3 separate regions of the Homo sapiens genome follow, and all the other regions are linked to region 3. The links come from fine-mapping of genetic effects on plasma protein levels. Region 3 holds a variant in brackets. A gene starts in each other region. All regions are shown on their reverse strands.

Region 1 (9,179 bases), not on the chromosome of region 3:
TCCTTCTCTCTGATTTATCCTCCACATCTAGCCTGTGCCCAGCACACACAGTGGGTACTTAAATATAGGTCAAATGACAGACTGAGAACCCACTGTGATTTGTCTGTTTTTGCAAAAGGTAGGACTGCCCCCTTCCACGAAGACCAATCTCTTTCTATGAGACCATCAGGTGCCACTCATGTGGAATTCATTCTGAAGTGAACCCTTTAAAAGAAGCACCAGTGGCTTTTTCTTTTTTAGTCAATTTTCCGGGAAAGTGCTGAAATCTGCAGTGAGTGAAAGAGCAGATTTTGATTTCCCTTTAAAAAAATTATCATAAAAGAGAAACTCAGCGTCTTTGAAATTGAAGCTTCCCAGAAACAAAATCACATGCTCTGATGGACTGTGATTGATAGAGTTCTGATTCTTCGGGAGAGGGGACCGGGAGAATGCATGGAAAAGGGCCTGAGAGACTTGTTCCTGCCCACAGCGAGATGGCCCTGCACTTCCAGAGGCCTGGCTCTGGGTTCACCAGATGTGGGACAGGGACGCCTCTGGGTCCTGCAGCCTGGGAGCCACAGCTCACCTTTCCCCAGGCTTCTAAAGATGGCTGCAGCTATATGGCTGTGCATTCATCGGTTCACCAAGAATGTATGGAGAGCCTATTACATTCTGGGGGCTTTGCTGTGCTCTGGAGAGGCAATGGGGGTGGGGGCCACAACCACAGTATACACCCTCTGAGAGTTTCCAGTCTGGCTGGAGAGACAACCTCATAGTTTTAAAAATGTACACCTCTGAAGAGCGTGGTGTGGAGGGATACGTGGTACTCTGGGAGGGTGCCAGGAGGCGGGTTGGGACCAGCCTGGGGTGAGGAAGGTCAGGGAGGTCTTCCCTGAAAAGGTGCAGCGTGGACTGGACGTTGATATCTAGGTGGCAGGTCACAGGTAGAGTGCTCAGGAAGTGGGAACGGCATGTGCAAAGGCCCTGAGGTGAGAGCTGCTCCCGGAAGGACTGAGGAAGGCCAGAGAAAGGCAGGCAAAAGAAAGGTACTAGTGAGGCTGGGAGGTGGGCAGGACCTGGTGGCTGTGGTAATGACTTTGGCCTTATCAGAATGGCAATGGGAAGACAGGGACTGTTTAAGCAGAAGGACTCGACCCGGCTGTGTGGTATGAGCCCCTCCCTAGGGGCCGCAAAAGCAACAAAGCCTAGTGGGATGCCATCACCCCTCACTCCTCATCTTCCTCCCTGTCAGACTTCCAGCCACACCTGCCATTCTCTGAACTAGGCCTGTGCCGTCCTGCGCCCTGGCTGGCCTCCCACTGTGACAGGGAACCTCCTCCCTCTCCTGGCTCCTTCCCCAAGCTGTTGTTTTTGCTTTCCTCAAGCCACTTGGCAACATCAGTTCTGGACAACCCATTGGGCATGCGGGTCGATCTGGTGGCTCTAGGAGGGTGCCTGGGCTCCAGTGTGCCTTTGCTCCCTCCCAGGTCTCTGCCTCTCAGGCCTCAGCTTCACCATCTGCAGGACAAAATAATGATACTTGCCTCCTAAAGTGGTTACAAGGATTCAATGCTTAGGACTGGGACCAGTACGCAGAGGTTGCTCCAGAAATATTCCCGATAATGATGACTGGTACCCCATTCACCCAAACATTTTTGGCCAGACTCTGACGTTTCAAAATAGGCATGGTATGTTGTCATCACGAGAAAAGTCAGACTAGACTTCCTTATCTTTGTTTGATGCTGAGGGTAGTTTTTAGTTAGCATAGTATTTTAGTGCTTAGAGCCGCTAAGGGGCTCTGCCTGGCTCTGTAGGGTTCTGGGCATTCTGTGGTCATCTCACATGTCCCCTCATCTCAGGACAGGATCCTGGACTCAAAGAGAGCAGCAGCGGGGGTTTCCAGGCCAGCCAGAGAGTGGGCAGTGGTGGGGCCTTGTCTGAGGATCTTTGGATTCGGTTGCCATGAGGCAGACAGTTGGAGGTTACTGCACAGAACGGGGTTCCTTCTCCTACACCTGTGGGTGGACACTCCAGGTCCCAGAAGAACTCCGTGGAGGTTGCAAGCCAAGGGATCCCCCCTCCCATCCCAATGTGACCTCGATGACCTTCTGGGGAGGGTGCTTGGTGGCTCCTTGTTCACCCTGGGGTTTATGTAACACCGCCTTTCCCAATCTCCCTCAAAGCCACCGTGTGACATAAGCAAATGCCTGCCTTCGTCTGCCCTGGCGGCTGGCGGGTAAGTGTGACCGAGCACCTGCTCCAATGTGCCAGGCGCTCACGTACTCACCTCACTGCATTTTGCTGACTGTCCTACAAGGTGCATTTGCTACTGCATTTTAAAACATTCAGATACAACTCACCTACCAGCAATTGTATCATTTTAAAGTGTATGATTTGGGGGTTTTGGGTATATTCACATGGTTGTGCAACCATCGCCACTATGTAATTCCAGAATATCTTCATCACCTCCAAAGAAACCTCGTGCCCATTAGCAGTCTCTCCCCAGCCCTGGATGCCCCAGCCCCCAGCAGCCACTGGTGTATTCTCTGTGTCTCTCCATGTGCCTATTCCCGACATTTCCCATAGCAGAATCATACAACATGTGGCCTTTTGTGTCTGGCTTCTTTCATGCAGCATCATGGTTTCAAGGTTCATGCATGTTGTGGCACATGGCAATGCTTCCTTCCGTTTTGTGACTTAATATTCCTTTGTATGGATAGAACACATTTTGTTTATCCATTTTCTATTGACAGACATTTGGGTTGCTTCCACTTTTTGGCTATGCCGAATAATTGCTCCTATGAACATTTGCAAGTTTTTGTGTGGATGTACGTTTCCTTCCTTCCTCCCTCTCTCCCACTCTCTCTTTCTCTCTTTCTTATTTTTTTTGGCGTTTCGCTCTTGTTGCCAGGCTAGAGAGCAAAGGCGCGATCTCAGCTCACTGCAGCTTCCACCTCCCAGATTCAAGTGATTCTCCTGCCTCAGTCTCCTGAGTAGCTAGGATTACAGGCGTGCGCCACCATGCCCAGCTAATTTTTGTATCTTTAGTAGAGATGGAGTTTCACCATGTTGGCCAGGCTGGTCTTGAACTCCCGACCTCAGGTGATCCACCTGCCTTGGCTTCCCAAAGTGCTGGGATTAAAGGTGTGAACCACCGTGCTCAGCCTCTTTTTTTTTTTTGTCCAGAGACAGAGTCTCACTCTGTCACTCAGGCTGGAGTGCAGTGGTATGAATATGGCTCACTGCAGCCTTGACCTCGCAGGCTCAAGTGATCTTTCGGTCTCAGCTTCCTGAGTAGCTGGGACCACACAGGTGCAAGCCACCATGCTCAGCTAATTTTTAAATGTTTTGTAGAGATGGGGTCTCACTTTTTTGGCCAGGCTGGTCTTGAACTCCTGGGCTCAAGTGATCCTCCCATCTTGGCCTCCCAAAGTGCTGGGATTACAGGTCTGACCACTGCACCTGGCCTATGTTTTCAATTCTCTTGGGTGTATATCTAGGAGTGGAATTGTTGGTTATATGATATCTCTATTTATTTTTTTTTTTTTTGAGACAGTGTCTCACTCTGTCACCCAGACTGGAGGGTAGTGGCACAATCTTGGCTCACTGCAACCTCCGCCTCCCAGGTTCAAGCAATTCTCCTGCCTCAGTCTCCCGAGTAGCTGGGACTACCGGCGAGTGCTACCATGCCTGCGTAATTTTTTGTACTTTTAGTAGAGTTGGAGTTTCACTACGTTGGCCAGGCTGGTCTCAAACTCCTGGCCTCAAGTGATCTGCCGGCCTCAGCCTCCCAAAGTGCTGGGATTACAGGCGTGAGCCACTGCCTCTGGCCTCTGTGTTTAACCATTTGCGGAACTGCCAAACTGTTTTCCAATTTGGTGGCACCATTCATTGTAGATTCCCACCAGCAATGCCCCAGGGTTCTCATCTCTCCATCTCCTCGTTAGCACTTGTAATTGTCTACCTTTGATTATAGCCACCCTAGTGAATGTGGAATGGCTTCTCATGGTGGTTTTGATTTGCATTTCCCTGGTGTTTAGCATCTTTTCACGTGCTTCTTGGCCATTTGTATATCTTCTTTTTTTTGGAGAAATGTCTATTAAAATCCTTTGCCCATTTTTAAATTGGATTGCTTGTCTTTTTCATTGTTGTTCAGTTGTCATTGCAGTTTAAAAAGAGGAAACTGAGGCTCAGAAGGGGGACATGACTGGTCCAGGGACACTGGGCTCACAGGCAGATTGAGATGGAACTTGGGTTGGTCTCCACCTCCCACCCAGCAGATTGGGGGCCACCTTCTCTCCCCCCACCAGAGCACCTCTCCCCAGCCTCCAGTTTCGACCTGGCCCTGCCAGGCCATCTCAGGTCCTATCCTTGCATTTAAAGGCGTAGGGCCCCACAGCAGAGGGTAAGCCGGAAAGCGAGGAAGCAGCAGTTCTGAGGAACCAAGCTGGTCCTCTCTTCCTCTCCAAATCACGCGGGCCTGGCTGACGTGGCCCGGGAAGAGGGGACAGCCCGGGTCCTGTGGTCGGGGAGCCTATTTATACTGGCTGGGCCATGTTGCAAGCTTTTCCTGCTGGTGAGAGGGACGTCACTGATTGCTGACCTCACCAGAAACGCTGACGCATCTTTCCTCACGCTTGGCTGGGATGGTCAGCGGCCAGGCCTCCTCACCTCCGAGCCACTCCCTGTCCTCCTGTGTATCACTTCACTCTGGATGCTCCGACAGTGGCCCCAGCCCCTGTGCCCTCCAGCTATGCCTTCCTCTTGCAGGCTGCATGGACTGAATGGTGTCTTCCCTGAACTCATGTGTTGAAGTCCTAACCATCGTGTGTCAGAACGTGACTGTATTTGGAAGTTGAGCCTTTAAAGAAGTAATTAAGGGCCGGGTGCGGTAGCTCACGCCTGTAATCCCAGCACTTTGGGAGGCCATGGCAGGCAGATCACTTGAGGCCAGGAGTTCGAGACCAGCCTGGCCTACATGGTGAAACCCCGTCTCTACTAAAAAAATACAAAAATTAGCCAGGCATGGTGGTGGGCACTTGTAGTCCCAGCTACTCGGGAGGCTGAGGCAGAGAATTGCTTGAACCTGGGAGGCAGAGGTTGCAGTGAGCCAAGCTGGCGCCACTGCACTCCAGCGTGGGTGACAGAGTGAGATTCCATCTCAAAAAAAAAAAAAAAAGAAAAGAAAAAAAAAAAGAAGTAATTAAGGTAAAATTGGCCAGGTGTGGTAGCACATACCTGTAATCCCAGCTACTCTGGAGGCTGAGGCAGGAGGCTCGCTTAAGGCCGGGAGTTCAAGGCTGCAGTGAGCTATGAAAGCACCACTGTACACTTAAGCCTGGGCAACACAGCAAGACTTTGTCTCGAAAAAGAAAAAAAAAAGGAATAATTAAGGTAAAATGTGAGTGGGCCCTAATCCAATGTGAATGGTGTCCTCATAAGAAGAGATAAGGCCAAGCGCGGTGGCTCGCTCCTGTAATCCCAGCACTTTGGGAGGCTGAGGCAGGTGGATCACCTGAGGTTAGGAGTTCGAGATCAGCCTGGACAACATGGCGAAACCCTGTCTCTACTAAAAATACAAAAATTAGCCTGGCGTGGTGGCACACGCCTGTAATCCCAGCTACTCAGGAGGCTAAGGCAGGAGAAGCGCTTGAACCCAGGTGGCAGAGGTTGTAGTGAGCTGAGATCGTGCCACTGCACTCCAGCCTGGGTGACGGAGCTAGACTCTGTCTCAAAAAAAAAAAAAAATCGATTAGGCCACGGACAAGCAGAAGGAACATGATGTGGAGATACGGGGAGAGACAGTCATCTACAAGTCAAGGAGAGAGGCCTTGGGAACCAGCCCTTGATTTCAGACTTCAGCCTCTAGAACTGTGAGAAAATAAATCTCTGTTACGTAAGCCCCCCAGTCTGTGGTACTTTGTTATGGGAGTCCTAGCAATGTAATCTACCTGCTCTCCTTACCTTCAGTGACTCTGAGCCCTGGGCCCTGTGCCTGACACCCTCATTAACTATGTGCAAAGAGTATGGTCTTTGGGCCTCGTTTGAATGCCTTCTTTTCTTGGTGGGTTTTTTGTTTTTTGTTTTTTTTAAACAGGGCCTTGCTCTGTCACCCAGGCTGGAGTCCTGTGGCATGATAATGGCTCACTGCAGCCTCAACCTTCGGGGCTCGAGCGATCCTCCTGCCTCAACCTCCCTAGTAGCTGGGACTTCAGGTATGCACTACGATGTCTGGATAATTTATTTTTACATTTTCTGTAAAGACACAGTCTCGAAGTCCTGGGCTCAAATGACCCTCCTGCCTCGGCCTCCCAAAGTGCTGGGATTACAGGCGTGAGCCACCATGCCTGGCCAAATGCCCCTCTCCTCTTAACTATTCATAGGTGACCTCAGACAAAGCAACCTCCTCTCTCTGCCATGAGGAGACAGCACGGCCTCCCTGGACCACAGGATAGATAGAATAAGATAAAGGCATGTGGCTGTTTCTCACCAAGCGTGGTGGTCGGTCAGCCACAGCTGAAAATGGCCTAGACCCCTCTGCTCAGATCTGGCGCTCCTTCCTTGAGCCAGCCCCTAAACTTCCCAGAGCTTCGAGCTCCTCACTGAAGTGAGCTGAGGTGTCACTGCCCAGCGGCTTCTCTCCCCTGGCTGTTGCAGGATGAGATCGGTGGCTGGGTGCTGTGGCTCACGCTTGCAATCCCAGCACTTTGGGAGGCCAAGGCAGGAGGATCATTTGAACCCAGGAGTTTGTTATCAGCCTGGGCAACATAGTGACACCCCGTCTCTACAAAAAATAAAAAAATTAGCTGGGCATAGTGATGCATGCCTGTGGTCTCAGCTACTCAGGAGACTAAGGCGGGGAGCCTTGCTTCAGCTTAGGAGCTGGAGGCCACAGTGAGCTACCTACAATGGCGCCACTGCACTCCAGCCTGGGTGACAGAGCAAGATCCTGCATTTAAAAAAAGAGAAAAAAAGACGAGATCAGGGATGTGAAATGGAGAAGGATCCCCTCTTGGCATGGCCCCAGGAAACAGCATTGTGGGGGTGGGCACAGAGATGAGGACTTCAGCGGAAGCGACATTCTCAGGATGAGAATCCAGAACTGGCCCCTGGGGGTGGTGAGGGGGAGGTATGAGGCCTGGTGTGGTGAGTCCCAGCCTGGGTGCCGGGGAGTGGGTAGGGGCTGAAGAGCAGCCTCCTGGGCGTGGGGTCGCCTATTTTTGCCTACTACGTGATCCTCAGACCTGGGAGTGGCTGGTGCAGCATGGAGCCAAATAAAGGTTTGTCGAATGAATAAATGAGTGATGGGGAGAATGGGTGGCAACTGCCTTGGTGGCCACAGTGGGCATCGGGAGCAGGCATGGACAGGGGTGCATCCAACCTCCTCCTTTCTGGCTGCCCCAGCTCTCCTTGCTCAGGCGCCCCAGACCCCATGCTCCCTCCAGCTGGAGCAGCTCAGGCCTCCCTGGCAGCCTCCAGGAGTCCCACCCTGACTCCCCAGACTCCTGAGGGCCTCCTCCCACCCGGGCTTCTTAGGGTGCAGGCCAAGGACCCTCCTCTGGGCCTGGGAGATGTGCTGACCAGGCAGGGTCTATAGGCCTGGGCCAGCCTCTTGGCCTCCCTGTCTGCCTTCACCCAGGCCTCAGTTTACCCCACAGTAAAGTAGCAGTTTGACTAGGGAGGCGCTGTTCCCAGGGCCCTTTCGCAGAGGACCAACCTAAGATCGCTATCTTTCAGAGAAAGTGAAACCTGGTCCCCAACTGTCAAGGCGGCAACTCCCCCTCCCCGGCTTCCCCTCTGAGCTCACAGCTTCCCCATCTCCTCCTTCCCCCATCCCGCCCCCTCGACAGCTAATACTTGGAATCAGACCTTCATCTTTGCTTTTTCCTTCAGAGGTCTTTTCCTTTTATGTCCATGCTGGCAGCAACCCTGTGAGGTGGGCTGGGAAAGGCTTTTCTCCTCCTCATTTTATAGTTGTGGGTCTCTGAGGCCCAGAGAGGTTAAGTGACTTGCCTCAGGTCACACAGCACCTCAGCAGGCTTGAACCCTGGCCTCCTGTTTCTCTTGCTCCAAGTGTCCAGTTCTCCCCAGTGGAGCCTGCCTACAAAGACAAGGCCTGGCTTTGGGGAGTGGGCCTGGCAGAGGGTGCACGATGGGGGAAAGGAGACCGTCGGGAGCCGGGCTGGGGGATGCTGGTCCTGGGGCCTGAACCACAATCTCGGGGCTGCCAGCCTGCGTCTGGCTCTGTGCCCAGAGCCCGGTGGTTTCCGCTCACAGATGTCCCAACAGCCCCGGCGAGAGGGCAGGAAGGGCACTCAAGAAGGAAGATGTCTCGCTCCCCTCAGCCCCCAACCACCGTGTCCTGTGAGGCCAATGGCTCCTGGGCCAAGACTGGCCTGGGGCCTCCAGAGGCCCAGCTCGAAGTCCCTCCTGCCCATCCCTGGCCCAGTTCCCTGAAGATGGCATGGACCCTTTTCCTCCCCACTCACCCTAGGAAGGCTGAGGCTGCGGTTTTACATCATCCTTGGGCGTAGGGCTGACCTCGAAGAACGAATTCGAAGAAAACAGGAGGAGGAGCGGGCATACACCGCGCCCTGCGCCCATTGGCCGCCCGTGGAAATTTTGGTTTTTGGGGTCATGTTCCCAGAAGGCCTGCCCTCCCCCCTCCCCATCCCCACCCACCTCATGAGGTGTTGGCCAATCGCCCCAGCGGGCATAAAGTGGCTGCCAGCCTGCAGGGCTCCCAGCCGAGAGGTGTCACCCCCAGCGGGCGCGGGCCGGAGCACGGGCACCCAGCATGGGGGTACTGCTCACACAGAGGACGCTGCTCAGTAAGTACTTCCTTCCTCCCCGCCAGAACCCGCCTGCTGGGTCTGCCCACGGGTGCCGGTGGGGAGCAGAGGCACCCTCTGCCCTCCGGGAACTGGGGAGGCCAGGCGCCAGGCAGAAGGATGCTGAGAAGGGGAGAGAGCCAGGAGGTCAGGCAGAGAGAGTGGTCCACTGAGAACCTGGCATCTCCACAGGTAGAGAAGGGGCATCCCTGGAAGGCTTCCAGGGGGAGGTGATGTCAAGATGTAGAGGCAACTCTGGGAACCAGGGGGTGAGAGAATAGGATGGGCAAAGAGGCTGGGCAGGAGAGGGAGGCTCAGAAGCTGGGCAGGGAAGTGGTGTGAGGTGTGGAGGGGTTGTGGGGCCTCCAG
Region 2 (4,035 bases), not on the chromosome of region 3:
GAGACAGCACATTATAACCCCCAAGTGTGTCCTGTTCTTTGACCCATGGATGGTCTGCAGTTCATCCCATCTCTCATCATTTCTCAGATGAGAAAATTGGGCCCAGAGTGCGGGAGGGTGAATTGCAGGCCACACAGCACTAGTGGCAGAGCTGGAATTAGAACCCAGGACCATCAAGGGTGGTGGGCGCCCCCAGCCCTCGGCGAGCCCCCTCACTCACTCTCGCTGGGGCAGAAGCCAAACCGGTCGTCGGTGTCGTAGTTGGCCGTGGTACTGCACCAGGGCAAGCCGTCGGAGCGACCGTCGGTGGTGCAGGCAGAGTAGGAGCGGCCCTCGAAGATGAAGGGGAAGTGGCAGGCCGCGCCATCTGCGTTTCCAAACCGAGTTGGAACCACTGCAGGAGGAGGGGGGACCGGAGTTAGGGCGGCGGGTGATGAGTGGGAGAGAATGAAGGGAATCAGGGGCCAGGAGGACTCAGAATCTCACCGACGCCCTTGCCCAGGGACCACAACTCGTCATCGTCGAAATGGGCGTCTCCCTGAATGCCGGGGCCAGGAGGAAAGGCGTGTGCCAGGAGCCCGTCCTTCCCGTCGAAGGGATACCCGTCTCCGTGCTCTGAAGAAACAGGTCGAGAGGAAGAGGGTTAGCCGAGTACTGCTGCGCAGATTGTGCGCTGCCCAAGGCAAGGGCTCCGAAATAAGTGCGGGCTGAAATCCCGCCTGCGCGAAGCTCTCCCAGCCTGGCGCCCTGGCCCTGTGCACTGTCTGGCAGGAGGGGCCGTATAAGCCAGGGCAGCGCGGGCAGGCAAGAGGAAGCCGGGGCCACTGCTGCCTCCACGCTCTCCGTGGTCCTCCCTTCCCTGACCCCGCCCAGGTCTCTTGGATTTTCCCTCCTCACGTTCTCACCCGCGACACCAAACTGGATGACGATGTCTGCGTCCCGGCTGTACACGCGAGTGAAGGTGAGCGGCGTCACCGCGCTCCACAGTGCGAAGGCGCGGGCAAAGGCGTCGTCAATCACCGCCCGCGGCAAGTCTTCCGAGTAGTTTTGGATCCTGTAGCGTAAGAGCCAGAGGAAGGAGGTCAGAAGTGAAAGGCTGGAGCGGGGCAGCAGGGACACCCCATATCGCAGAGACTTCAACATACACAATGCTCTCTGCCGTCCACGCTCTCATCTATAAATTGCTTCCAGACTGTTTTTTTTTTTTTTTTTTTTGTCTACTTAGACCCTCACAATGGCCCTGGCAGGAGGACTTGGATTGCAAGAGCCATTTCCCTGAAGGAGAAACAGAGGCTCAGAGGTGGGGACACTCCCCAGGGGCCACACATTAAATAGTGAAACCCAGGGACGCGTCCAAGACAGGACATGTTCACCGCTGGCCCAAGAGCCAGACCTGGCCTCCCCGCCCCACCCCGCTGCCCCCACGGCCCCGGCTCACCAATAGGTGATGTTGTGGTGGTGCCACTTGAGGTCGCCCTCAAAGGTTTGGAATCTGCCCAGGTCTGGGACCCCGCACCGTGGGGTTCGCATGGCCTTCAGCGTGGCGCTATCCAGCTCACCGGTCTCGGGCAGGGACAGTTGCTTCTGGAGAAGCAGCAGCGCAGGCCCCAGAGATTTCGACTCTCCACGCATCTCTGCCACCCGAGTGTAACCATAGCGGTACAGGTATTCCTGTGGATGAAGGGACACACACATGCCAGATCTCTGACCCCTTTCTCTGCCCAGCTGGGGCCAAAGGACTCCCTCCAGACACTCATGGAGGGAGTCTTTTTTCTTTTTCTTTTTCGGAGAGACGGTATCAGCCCACTGCAGCCTGGACCTCCTGGACTCAAGCGATCCTCCCATCTCAGCCTTCTGCATAGCTGGAACTACAGGTGCACATCACTGTGCCTGGCTATTTCTTTAATTTTTTTGTAGAGACAGGATCTTACTATGTTGCCTAGGCTGGGCTCAAACTCCTGAGCTTCAGCGATCCTACCACCTCAGCCTCCCAAAGTGCTGGGATTACAAGTGTGAGCCGTCATGCCCAGCAGGGACTAACATTTAATAAAGCATTAAATGCTTTCCAGACACCAGTGCTTTCTGACCACCCAGGGATCTCCCCTCCTTAGACATCCTCAGCTCCTTCTCACCCCTGGATGCCTCTAGCCCATTTCTACCCCACAGCTGCATAAGGTTTGCCCCTGTTCACTCCCAGCCTATGCTTACCCCAGAACCCTCCAATGCCTCCCCCACCCCAAACCATTTCCCATTTCCCACCTAGGAAAGCCCCATTGCCCATTTCTGGCCATCACTGCTCAAAGCCTCCACAAGACCCCCCACTGCCTAACCCTGGACACCTCTGTTCTTCAGATACGCCCATCACCACCAACACACCCCTAAAGCATCTCCTCTGAGGCCCTGCATCCTCTCTGGGACACTCAACACCCTCACGGACAGCCCTCCCCAACTCTAGACTAGGTGTTTGCCCACCTCTGCCAGCTGCCTGTCGGTGAGATTGGTTCTCAGGTCTCCAGGGAAGAGCACAAGGGTGGACTGGCGCTGTCTGGGGGCAGCAAAGCAGCAGCCCAGCACCAGGAGCACCAGGACCAGGGGCTGCCAGAGGCTCATGGTGAGGGCAGAGGTGTCTGACTGCAGCTGCTGTTGTGGGGGCTTTAAGGAGGCGCTCCTGTGACCCCACCCCTCCTTGACAGGCAAGTGCTGACTCAGGGGTCAGGGTGTGTGTGTGTGTGTGTGTGTGTGTGTGTGTGTGTGTGTGTGTGTGGCAGCACCAGCATGAGAAAGGGCTTACACCACCTCCTCCTCTCTCCACTGCCCGCAGTCTCCACTGCCAAGTCAGGCAAGACCCCAGACCCGCAGGAAACCGCAGGCCCTCAGGGGAGGGGTAGGGTTTTGCAAACTGCAGAGCTTGTGGGAACTGTATGAAAGGGAGGGAGGGGGATGAAGCTGGAGGGATCCCCCATCCCTTGGTCTGAAAGCCTCCAGTGGTCAGCCAAGGGAAAGTGATGGAAGACTCCCTGAGACTTCTTTCTGAAACTAATGATCCCCCTGGCCCATCCTTGGCCTTTTGCAACACCCCCTCCCAGGTCAGATATCCTCCCCAAACCCCTCCCCACACTCCAGGCTCTGTCCTCTTTTTCCCTCCCTGACAGCCTTCTTTGACTCAGCTTCCTCTCCCTGCTTCATCTGGGGGCGGAAGGAATGGGCTCTGCTAGGCAAGGCTGGGGAATTCCACTGGGGCAACCCCCTGTCTTCCGCAGGCTGAATCTTCAGGGCAGTAAAGGGGACAGTAGCAGCCTCTAGAAAACAGCAGACATGGCTTTACTCTCTTCCTTCAGGACCTCGGGCAAATGTCTTACCACTTTGAAGTGTTTCCTCAGCTGTAAAAAAAAAAACGGGGGGTGGGGGGCTCTTTGTCCCTAAATTGATGTGAGGATTAAATGAGATCAAACATATAAAATGTTTAGAACACTGTAGGTTGTAAGTCCGCAACGGATGGTGGTGATTGGTTTTAATTACTAAGGCCAAGACCCAAGATTCAGGGCCAGGTATGGTGGCTCATTCCTGTAATCTTAGCACTTTGGGAGGCCGAGGTGGGAGGATTGCTTGAGCCCAGAAAGAAGGTCAAGGATACAGTGAGCCATGATTATGTCACTGCACTCCAGCCTGGGCAACAGAGCGAGACCCTGCCAAAAGACCATGATTCTAACTTGGAATCACCAAACCAGGTTATTGGGCTCTAAGCTGCAGTGTAACCTGGAGTAAATGCCTTCCCCTTTGTCAGCTTAGGATTCTTCAACTGCAAATTGGGGCAGGATATGGGGGAAAATAATCTATAGGAGCCCTTTCAGTTCTCCAGCCCTGCTCCATGCAGCCAAATCTCCAGCCCCAATTATCACACTTATGCCAAGCCTCCCTCCCAAGCCTCCCACACCAGCAGCCTCCCTCACTCCTTTCTTCCTAGCCAGCCGGCATCGGGCAGGGTCTATATTCACCTTCTTCAAAGCCCTATTTGGGAAAAACCTGCTAACAACT
Region 3 (10,565 bases):
GTGTGTGGTGCGGAACTGGCTCCACCTTTTGAAGGGAAGAACAGCATTCTAATACAGAGAGGAGAGGAATTGTCAGTGACCATCTTCGCAGACAATCTACAACCACCATAGGTCATCCCCTTTCTGATCTCATCTTCTTATCTGTAAAATGGGAATGATTCCCCAGGGTTGATGGAGAATAAGGGAATATTGTGCTTGCAATTTCCTGGAACATGGTGATGCCTCATTCAGGGTTGGTCCCTCCCCTTCTATTTTTTGTTTTGGGAGGGCGGGGAATGGAGCCTCACTTTGTCGCCCAGGCCGGAGTGCAGTGGCACAATCTGGTCTCACTGCAACCTCTGCCCCCCGGGTTCAAACGATTCTCCTGCCTTAGCCTCCCGAGTAGCTGGGACTAGAGACGTGCAACACCACGCTCTACTAATTTTGTATTTTTAGTAGAGACAGGGTTTCACCATGTTGGCCAGGTTGGTCTCAAACTCCTGACCTCAGGTGATCCGCCCACCTCGGCCTCCCAAAGTGCAAGGATTACAGGCGTGAGCCACTGCGCCCAGCCCCGCTTCTATTTCTTAATCGTGCTTTATAAATGCTTACTGATTTGCTGTCTCATTTCAGTCATTCATTCACTTAATCTTTATTGAGTCCTATGAGTCAGGCTCTGCTCTGAGAGCCAGGGATCACAGCTGAGAATAAAACAGACAAAAGTCCTTGCCCCTATGGAGTTCGTTTTGACAAGAGAGACAGACAATAAATGAGGCAAACAAATAAAATACGTATTGTGTTGGGAAGTAAAGAGGCCAAGGAGAAGGAAAAAAAAACGGTAGGGGGCTAGAGAGTTCTGTGGTGAGGGCCCAGTGTTCGCTAGGGCGGCCTGGGAAGGCCTCACTGAGAGGAAGTCATCTGAGTAAATCCTAAAGGAGGAGCCCTGGGGATGTTCCAGGCAGAGAACAGCTAGTGCAAGGGCGCCGAGAGGGGAGCACGTCTCAGGTGAGTGAGGGGTGGTGAGGGGTCCCGGGTGGCTGGCGGAGGGAAGAAGGGGAGAGATAAGGGAACTAGGGAGGGCAGATCAGGAAGCATCCCCACTACCCGCCCCCACAAAGGAATTTGTCTTTTACTATGAATAAGATGAAATCACAGAGGCTGGCGTGGAGGAGGAGAGCAGTGGCTGCAGGGTAGGCCAAAGACTATAGTGGGAGCAAGAAGAGGCAGGGAGACTGGTGGGAGGGTGGCCTGGCCAGGGGCGTCCCACTGGAGGTGGGAGAGGTAACTGAATTCTGAACAGTGCTTTGGAGTTAGACAGGACTTTCCTGTCAAATCACAGGATATCAATTTGGCATGACAAGCAGGTGTTATCAAATCCTCATGTTATAGAAGACAGCATCAAACCTTGGCGAGGCTGGATGACATGCATCGTGTCACGTAGTTACTAAGCAGTGTCTTTCTGAAGGCAGGAAGGTTGCGGGGTCTGTCTGAAGCTGACAGTAACGGATGTGTGGTCTGCACGTGGGTGTGTCTGTAAGTCTTGCCTTTCTCTGGGTCTCCATATCTGTTGTCACCCCATCTCCACCCCCTACTGCCACCTGTCAGCTTCTGCTCTTCTTACGCATTGCAGACACATCTTCATCTTCTCCCAAGCCCATTTCTAAGGGGCCTGTATGTTTCTGGTGCCCAGAGTGTATGTGGGCGACCGTTGTAGCATCGGCATGCCTCATAAGAGTGTGAATGCCCCAGTGTGTGTGTTTCTGAGTTTGTGTGCATTACTTTGGCTGTGTGTGAGGTGTGTGTGCATACTGCTGGCTGTGAGCACCTATAGATGGGGGGCTTAAGGGACTGGGTGTGTGCACGAGAGTAAATGTGTGTGCAAATGTGTGAGCACATGGAGGTATCCTCTCTCCTCCTTCAAATTTGCTCCCATCCTGAAAAGCCCAGGTCAAGCCCACTTCTGCAAGAAGTCCCCTCACTTTTCTAGGCCATAAGAAGCCCTCCACCGCTGACATCCCACCACCCCCTCTGTCAGAATCACACACTCCGTGGCTTTGATTGCTTTCGAGTGGATCTACCTCCTAGAATGCCAGCTGCCCACATGCTGCAGGGCAAAGTGGACATGCAGGCGCACATCCCTGCCCCTGTTCAACCATCAGGCTAGACCTCCTGGGGTCACCTCCCCCAGCCCCCCACGTGAGTTGTTTAATGGTGCTTTGGAGAAGGAGGGGCAGCAGCCTCAGTAGGGTCTAGTAAGCAGGCCTGGTGGCCTCCAGCAGGCAGACGCAGGTGCGCAGAAGTGGCTGTGTTCCAGGCTCCCTTCCTCCCTGTGGGTAGCAGCTGAGTCCAAGCTGTAGAATGGAAGTCTACACTGCACTCTGTCAGTGAGCTCCCAGGGTGGGCTCGTGGGGGTCCTGGGAACGCAGAGACTTGGCCCTCTAGAGAGACCTGCGGGCCTCAGGGTAGCTGGTCCCATCCTTTGCTCCCTCCCCTGCACCCTCTAGGGGCCCCCACACTGGGCCCCAAAGCAGGGCTCCTTCTGATGTAAACCCCTCTCCTTCTCTTCCTCCCAGGGCACTGGTTCCTCTGTGAACCCTGTGGCCTCTTCTGTAGGTACTACAGGGTCCTTTCTCTTTAATCCACTGGAAATCAGGCCTTTGCTGTTAGCCTGAGTTGCCCGACAGACTAGAGAATCATTTCAGCCATGAGCCGAGCCATCCTCACATGGACCGCACTGGAAATCCTGGAGGTGTAGGGCCAGTTTAGTCCCCACCCCAACAGCCTGCCCTTCCCCCAGTCCTGGCCAGGCTCCTGCCTCAGGCCTTTTGTTCTAGCTGTTTCCTCTGTCTGAAATGTTCTAGCCCAGACTCTGCTTGGCTATTCCTTCCCCAAGCTCCTGTTGAAATGTTGGCCTCTTCATGGGGCCTCCCTGGAGCACCCAGCTTAGTACGGTGACCCGAGTGAGTGCACACCCTCGCACCCACCAGCACTCCTCATCTCCCAGCCCTATCTGCTTCCTCTTTCTTTCCATGGAACCCACTGCCTACATGAGGATTATAGAATGTAAGGCTGGGCGCAGTGGTTCACACCTGTAATCCCAGCACTTTGGGAAGCTGAGGCAGGAGGATCCCTTGAGGCCAGCCTGGGCAACATAGTAAGACCCGTCCCTACAAAAAAGAAAACGAAAATTAGCCGGGCTTGGTGGTCCCAGCTACTCAGGAGGTTGAGGTAGGAGGTTCACTTGAGCCCAAGAGTTTGAGGCTGCAGTGAGCTGTGATCCTGCCACTGCACTCTAGCCTGGGTCACAGAGGGATACCCTATCTCAAAAAAAAAAAAAAGACAGAAAGAAAGGAATGTATTTATTCTGTCTATTGTGCCTCCCCAACAAAATGTGGGCCCCAAGAGGGCAGGAATCTTTTTTTTTTTTTTTTTTTTTTTTTGAGATGGAGTTTCGCTTTTGTCACCCAGGCTGGAGTGCAATGGCACGATCTCGGCTCACTGCAACCTCTGCGTCACAGGTTCAAGCAATTCTCCTGCCTCAGCCTCCTGAGTAGCTGGGATTACAGACAGATGCCATGACGCCCAGCTAATTTTTGTATTTTTAGTAGAGACGGGGTTTCACCATGTTGGCCAAGCTGGTCTCGAACTCCTGACCTCAGGTGATCCACCCGCCTCGGTCTCCCAATGTTCTGGGATTACAGGCGTGAGCCACCACGCCCGGCCGAGGGCAGGAATCTTTACTTTTCTCGCTGATGTCTCCCAAGTGCCCAGAACTTGCCAGGCCATTTTAGGTGCTCCATAGACATTTATTTAGATTGTCGCTGGCACTGGAGCTGAGAGCAGAGAGAAGCTTGAGGGAAGAAGGGGGGTCCTCAAAGCCATGGCTACCCCTCAGAGGGGAGGCAGGGGCAGGGGAAGGAGCGGGGCCGGGCGGCCACCGGATCTCTGGACCCCTCCACCCCACTTGCCCTCCTCCCTCGGGGGTGGGGGGGCATGTCTGCCCTGCACACGCATGTTGGCACACACCTGCGTACCCTGCATAGGTGGCCCCACCTCCCACCTAGTCCAGATGCATGCGCGGCTGACGTGGCTGTGGTTTTGAGGCCCCAGAGGTACAGATTAGAGTCAGGGCGTCTGTCCTTTTCGGCTGCAGGAGCAGGGTGGGATGGGGACAGGCACTCCCTGCAAGCAAGCACCCAGAGGCCCTTTCTCCCTGACCTCTTGCACACACATGTGGACAGACAGGTGGTCCCCCAGGCTGGCTGTCCTTAGACCTCAGGCCCAGGAGCTGTGCACCTATCTATACTAGGCCTTGTTGCAGGGGAAGAGGGGCGGCAGAGGAAGTGGCTGCGGGCGCCCTTCCTAGCGTCTGAACTTCCACCTTTAGTGTTTGTGCCCGACACATGGGCGCCCAGCTTTGTTTGTCAGTTCTTTCCTTTGAGGGAAGCGTTATTTCTTTTGCCTTCTCATGTCAAAACCACATCCCTGCGGGAGGGTTTCACATTCAGCCCTTAGTGGTGTTGAGCTTGTCTGCCCAGGCCTCCCTCACGCGCACACCATGTGGCCAGTCCTGGGGAGCATGCCGGTCCCCTGCTCAGAAACCTGCTGCTGCCCAGGGCCTACCAGGTCCAGCCCCGCACTCAGACCCAGTGCTCGAGGCCCTGCCCTGCCGCCTTCCCTACCCCAGGCATCCTGCTTTGCGGGCAGATGTGTGGCCTTGAGCCAGGTGTCCAGGTTCAATGCCAGCACTGTATGACTGGCAAGTCACTTAGCCTCTTTGTGCCCAGGTTCTCTTCCTCGCAGAACTATTGTGAGAGTTAAGTAGGTTCACATATGCAAAGTGCTTAGCACAGCACCTACTGTGCAGGTAAGGTGTCAATTAATATTAGCTGCCATGATGATCATTTCCTGCCTCAAAGTCAGGAGGGCCTGAGAAATGGCTTTGTCAGGGCTTTGCAGCCCAGCTCTGGCCTCCCAGACTGAGCCAGCTGCTTCCAGGTCACCTGGGAGCTTGTTGGAGACTCAGAGTCCCAAGCCGCTCTAGGGGTTGTGACACAGCAGCTGTGGGCTGGGCTGGGGTGGTGGGGCTGGGGGCCTCACACCTGGGCCTGCAGGCATCTGTGGGACAGGAATCCCCTGCAAGGCCCTTCCCCAGCCTCAGGCTGGTCCACCCACCCGAGTCTTTCCAATTCTGCTTCTCCAGATCCCCTGTGCCTTGCAAGGTTCCTGTCCTGCAGGAAGTAGGCCCACAAACCCTGCCGCCGACACCCCACAACCCCTCCTTCCTGGAGCCTCAGTTTCCTCAAGTATGAAAGGGGATAAAAAATGCCCACATCTCAGGATTAACATCAAGCAAGGTCTTAGATGAAAAGCACCTGGCCCATGGCAGCCGAGAAGGCTAGTTATTATTACTGCTATTGGTGTTATTGCCCGCACCCTGCACCTGCTGAGCACCTGCATGTTCCTCTGGGTTCCCGGCAGGGTCTAAATGCCTAAACTCACATCAGGTGTTAGGGAAGTTGTGTTGACCAGGGTGGACTCTGATTAACCTTCCACCTCCTTGCCTTGGGCTCTTGGAGCTGAGAGGGAGCACCATGGCTGGAGTCTGAGTGTGGCTGGCCCTCACTCAAAACAGCCTGAGTGAAGGAGGAAGGAAGAGAGGTTGAACTGAGTGGCTTGGGCCCCAAAGGA[T/A]GTTGAAAGCTAGGCCGCGGAGTGACAGTTCTTGGGGGCCCCACTGTAGCTCCCTGCCCGCCCCACCGGCTGCTGTCAGTGGGAAGTGCACAGGCCCGGGGTGGGTAGAGGTAGGGTCCCAGCCTGGGCCAGCTCCCCGGGCCCTGCCACTGCAGACCTGGGCAGCCACCAGAGCTTTGCGTCTTGGGGTCAGCATTGCCTTCTCCAGGCTCCTCCAGTGGAAGCCGCCTCCTCACCGCACCCCCAGGCCCCACCTCGCCCCACCTCACCCCACCTCGCCCCACCTCACCCCACCTCGCCCCACCTCACCCCACCTCGCCCCACCTCACCTAGGCGCAGCCCCAGAAAATATCTATGAAGCACTCACTTCATAGATAGCACCTGTGCCAGGTGGTTTCAGTTCCACAACCTCATTTAATCCTCCACAATTCCCTGACATTTTATAGGAAAGAAAACTGGCTCAGAGAGGCTGAGTAACCTGCTCAAGATGACACAGCTTGTGGGTGGCTGAGTTGGCCTTCCAACCCAGATTCCTGTCATGTTCCTCAAGCCGACAGGTGGGTGAATTTGTGCTGGAAGAGACTATGCGACTAGGCCTCTTGTTTGTTGGGGGAAGAAATAGACACCCTGCACTGGGAATTGAGCGCCCCAGGCCATGCCGCAGGCTCCTGGCAGAACCAGGACGGGTTATAGAAACTTCTTTTGGCATTGGGTGCCAATGGGAGGGGCTCTGCCGGGAAGGCTTCCTCCTTTGCTGCCTCCAGGTCTCCCCTCAGAGGCCACCTCCCCACAGAGAAGCCTTTCTGGCAGTCCTAGCTGAAGTAGGGCACTATCACCCTCTATCCTGGGCTGGCTTTAGTTTTCTTTGTAGCACTTATTGTCACTTGCAGTTTTATGTATCCAATTATTTATTTATTGGTTCTCCCCCATGCTAGAATATGAACTCCATGAGCTCCAGGAGGGTCTGTCTTGTTCCCTTGCCTAGAATAGTACCTTGCACAAACGCCACAATTTTTTTGTGGAATGAATGAATGAGAGTGTCAGGTGATAAAGAAGCAAGCATACATGGGGGAAAGTTTGGTGTGATAATTCTGGTGGAGGAGGGAACTGAGAAGTAATTTACAAAAGGGAAGGGGCAGGGCCACTGTGGACAGCCATAGCATCTGGCACGAAGACTGCCAAGTGAATGGTGCCCCCTGCAGTTGGACAGTTCTCAACTTGGACAACAGTCCATGGTGCCCTTAAGGGTGGGAAGGGACCATCCCCTCAGCAGGGACTGAGGGAGAAGGGAGCCATGAATGGGGCAGGTCTGCAGGTGCCCTCAGCGGGAGGAACAGGCTGTTCCCTCTGTAAGGACGCCACGTGGTTGCGGTTAGCAGTTTGCCATCCGGTGTTGTCTCCACAGACAGTTGTCCAACCAGGGAGGGGGCTACTGCTCTGCTGTGAGCAATCGCTAGTACCTGGAGCACCCAGCAGGCTTCGGGCAGGAAAATCACCTGACACACCCCACAAACACACACCAAACACTGTGGACAAAGATAATCGCACAGGCAGAGGGGGGCTGTTTCCTGAGCCAGCCCCGGGCTCAGAGGTGGAGGACACTGTGTACTGAGGTCTCTCCCCTGAGCAGGGGCCTCGGTGAGGAACTTGTCACAGCTCTGTGGCCTGCCCCCCTTCCTCCTCCCCAGCCCCACAGGCTGGGCACAACAACAATCACCTGGCGATCGCAGGCCGTCTTCAGTGAGTCACCCTGCCCACAGTGAGCCTGGCTGGACGATGTTATCAGCTCCCCTGCTTACTTAATTCCTTGGGTGACATCACCACCGCCTCCGTCTTCTCCTTCTCGGCACTGTAGCCTGCAGCCTGGCATATCCTGGAAGGGAAGGCGGTGGAGGTCTCTTGCCAGAAACTACCAGGGCAGGTAAATTGGAACCTTCAGTTCCTTGACCTTTAGCCCCAAGGGGCTTGCCCTAGTTTCTTGCTTTGCACACAGGGGCCTCAGTTTACCTCCCAGGAGATGCTGTCTGCAGTGAAGCCCTGGGAAACACATGGCACCTCTACTCTGTGCTCATTCCCTCTCTCCTTGTGCAGAGGGGGTTTCCTGTTGGACAGAGGCCAAGCTGCTTGCCCTTCAATGTGTCCAAGTTTATCCTGGGGTTGTACCCCCAAGTCCAGCCTAAGTTCTGTCTCGCGTGGACACAGCTGCCTCCGAGCCTCTGTGATGGGCCTTTGGGTTCCCAGGCTCTCCCAGGCTCAGATGGGGCAGCCCTGCTGGCCTTCTACCCGCCTCTGTGTCCGGCCACCATGACCTGGGACTCAGCCCCTCACCTCCTGGGAGCCCAGGCCAGCCCTTCCCCGCCACAGCCTAGCATTCCCTTTTGCGTCCCCTCACCTTCACCCTTGCCAATACCGACCTGCAGGCCCAGTGGCACATGGGAAGTGCTGTAGGGTCAGTATAGCAATGACAGAAGTGACTGGAGATGTGTGTGGTTCCCTTTCAGCCTGGCCTCCTCCTCTGCATCCCAGTGGGATGAGGGAGGGGATTAGTTCCTCTCTCTGAATTGTCCTACTCTACCCCCTCCCCACCATTTGAGCGGGACAGCAGAGAGGGGAGACTGAGAGGCCCCAGGGAGGGGCTGAGCACAGGCCTCTCTGGCTGGACCTCGGTCTGTGATGGGAAGCTGCCCAAGCCTGGCATGTGAGGGAGGCAGCCAGGGGAAGCCGGTGGGGCTGGGCAGGGACAAGAGGCAACCCTCTGAGCTGCCAGACAGCTTCCTCTATGACCCTCAGGGGACGGTTCCTCCAATGGCACTGCCAGAGGCTGGGGAAAGAGGTGTCTAAACACCAGTCACTTTTGCTCTAGTTATTTGACCAAAACGAATTGTTCCTTAGAAGGAAAAAGAAAAAAACAAAACCACGAAACCCAAAAAACCTCACCATTGATGTCATGCCGATCACCCCGTGGGCTGATAAACAAGTCCTGGAGCAGATAGCATCCCTGGGCAGGGTGAGCACCCCCCACTGCACCCTTCCTACGGGAAGCTCATCGGAGGTCGGCCTCGCCACTCTGCACACAAACACTGCTGCCCCCTCCACATCCTGGAATGCTGTAGAATGCTGTTCCAACCTTCTGGAGTGGGGGGCCCCAGAGAGAGGTCAGAGCAAGCCTGGGCTCCTCCCCACACATGCCACTCTCACTGGACTGATGTTTCCTCACCTGTTGAGTGGAGGAGTGATAGAGGTATTAAGTATGAAGGTTCTTGGAAGTGTTCACTGGCCAGCCAAGAGGCTGGGGCCCTGCAGAGAAGGGAAAGGGGAGAGGGAACATTTCAGAGAAGAGATCCCACCTCAATGATTTAAGGTCAGTTGACAACATCTGGCCTCAGAGCTGATAGGGTCCCTTTAAGTCCTGAGCTGAGTTCTTATGAATGCTTCTAGGGAACTGCACGCCTTGAGAGTGATTGGCACCATTGCTGAACTCGGCCTGTGGTCTGCTCAGACCCTTGGCTCCTTCTCCAAGTTCTAGAATACAACCTAACCAGAGTTAATGGGTGTTCTTTCTGTTGTACTTCCCTACTTGATTGCAGACTAAGCTCAAATTCTAGTCCACCCTGATGGCTTCCCTCAGTTGAAGTGTACAGCCTGACTTCAGCTCTAGTTTGAGCCCTTATTCCTCTTTTTTTTTTCTTTGAGATGGAGTCTCACTCTGTCACCCAGGCTGGAGTGCAGTGGCATGATCTTGGCTCACTGCAACCTCTGCCTCCTGGGCTCAAGCGATTCTCCTGCCTCAGCCTGCTGAGTAACTGGGATTACAGGTGTGCACCAATGTGCCTGGCTAATTTTTGTATTTTTATTAGAGATGGGGTTTCACCATATTGGCCAGGCTAGTCTTGAACTCCAGCCCTCAGGTGATCCTCCCGCCTCGGCCTCACAAAGAACTACCACTCCTGTCCTGACCCCTTATCCCTCTTTAACTCTGAGCTCAAAGCTCCCGTCCACTTCCATAGCCCATACATACCTCACACTCATTTGTCCCAAACCAAACTTGTCTTTCTCTCACCAGCACATTCCTCCACTTGAATGCTACATCTTAGCTCACAGTCACACTGTAAGCCATCATCCACACCAGAGGCTGAGCCACCCCTGACCACTCCTTCTGTCCAGGGCATCTTATTGGCCCTCTCATCTGGTGAGTTCTAACGCTTTGGTGTCTTAAGGCTTCATCCCCTCTTCCTCATTCCTCTCCACCCCTCAGTTTCTATAGTAATTTAGATCCTCATCTCTTTCCTTAAGAACAGCCAGCGGAACCAATCAGAACTCCGAGGCCATCCTCGCACAGCTGCCAGGGGCTCTTTTCTGATGCCATGGTGCCCCCCTCTCAGTGTCTCCCTGCCTGCCCCTCCAGCTTCATGCTCTGACCCTCCTGGGTGCAGACCATGTGCATCTGGAAACAGCTGGGCCTACCTGCTTCATTACCAGTGCTCAGGCTGCTGGCAAGGCCCTCCTCTCCTCCTCTTCCCCCTTCACTGCCTCCTCCAGGAGGCTTTCCTGACTGGAGACACATGGCTGGTGCTCCTTCCTCCATGCCCCTACTCTGTCCACTTCCTGCTGAGCATGCTCCTCCCTGGGGTGCCTTCCCAGTTACAGACTCAGCCCCGACCCTGGCCACAGACAGGGCCTTCTTCTCTCTACCTAGACTGTAGCTCCACCAACCCTATGTTGTGGCTACATACCAGGCAGACCTGGGTGTGGGTATCCCGTTTTACCCACTTCCCACTGGGGACCTCGGACAAGTGACTTTCTCTCTCTCGGTCTTCCTTTCCTCATCTGTCAAATGGGAGGATAACATAACCTGCCTCCCAGGGTGGGTGGTTGGGCCTGGCACACCGTGAAGG

Alleles and levels. Positions count from the first base shown, and alleles are read on the strand shown. Strength reflects both the effect of a copy and how common the allele is.
For the plasma level of the protein whose gene starts at base 8,725 in region 1, A is the high allele of the variant in region 3 and T is the other (weak association).
With allele T in place of A in region 3, the plasma level of the protein whose gene starts at base 2,629 in region 2 is lower (weak association).

The links. A credible set is the group of variants that fine-mapping cannot tell apart. PIP is the posterior inclusion probability: the model's chance that the variant is causal. The UK Biobank Pharma Proteomics Project read protein levels with antibody pairs (Olink). The fine-mapping took linkage between variants from a reference panel, not from the people measured, so its PIPs are less certain.
Region 1: OSM starts here. The variant in region 3 is the best candidate, but not a certain one, in a credible set for the plasma level of the OSM protein (UK Biobank, PIP 0.74).
Region 2: it holds the start of MMP9, and the variant in region 3 is the best candidate, but not a certain one, in a credible set for the plasma level of the MMP9 protein (UK Biobank, PIP 0.53).

Annotation. Positions count from the first base shown.
Region 1 is chr22:30,266,397-30,275,575 of GRCh38, reverse strand. OSM (oncostatin M) reads left to right here and starts at 8,725. Exons shown (of 3, transcript NM_020530.6): 1 at 8,725-8,810. The coding sequence starts at 8,777.
Region 2 is chr20:46,007,502-46,011,536 of GRCh38, reverse strand. MMP9 (matrix metallopeptidase 9) reads right to left here and starts at 2,629. Exons shown (of 13, transcript NM_004994.3): 1 at 2,473-2,629; 2 at 1,439-1,671; 3 at 906-1,054; 4 at 487-615; 5 at 221-394. The coding sequence starts at 2,610.
Region 3 is chr2:43,128,032-43,138,596 of GRCh38, reverse strand. It overlaps LOC105374570 (a long non-coding RNA gene), which reads right to left and starts at 10,201. Exons shown (of 3, transcript XR_940018.3): 1 at 10,135-10,201; 2 at 8,608-8,967; 3 at 6,223-7,543. RefSeq lists enhancers at 4,219-4,288, 3,800-4,561, 4,729-4,778, 4,562-5,325, 7,424-7,483 and a silencer at 6,884-6,933. The variant T/A (reference allele first, on the strand shown) is at 5,671.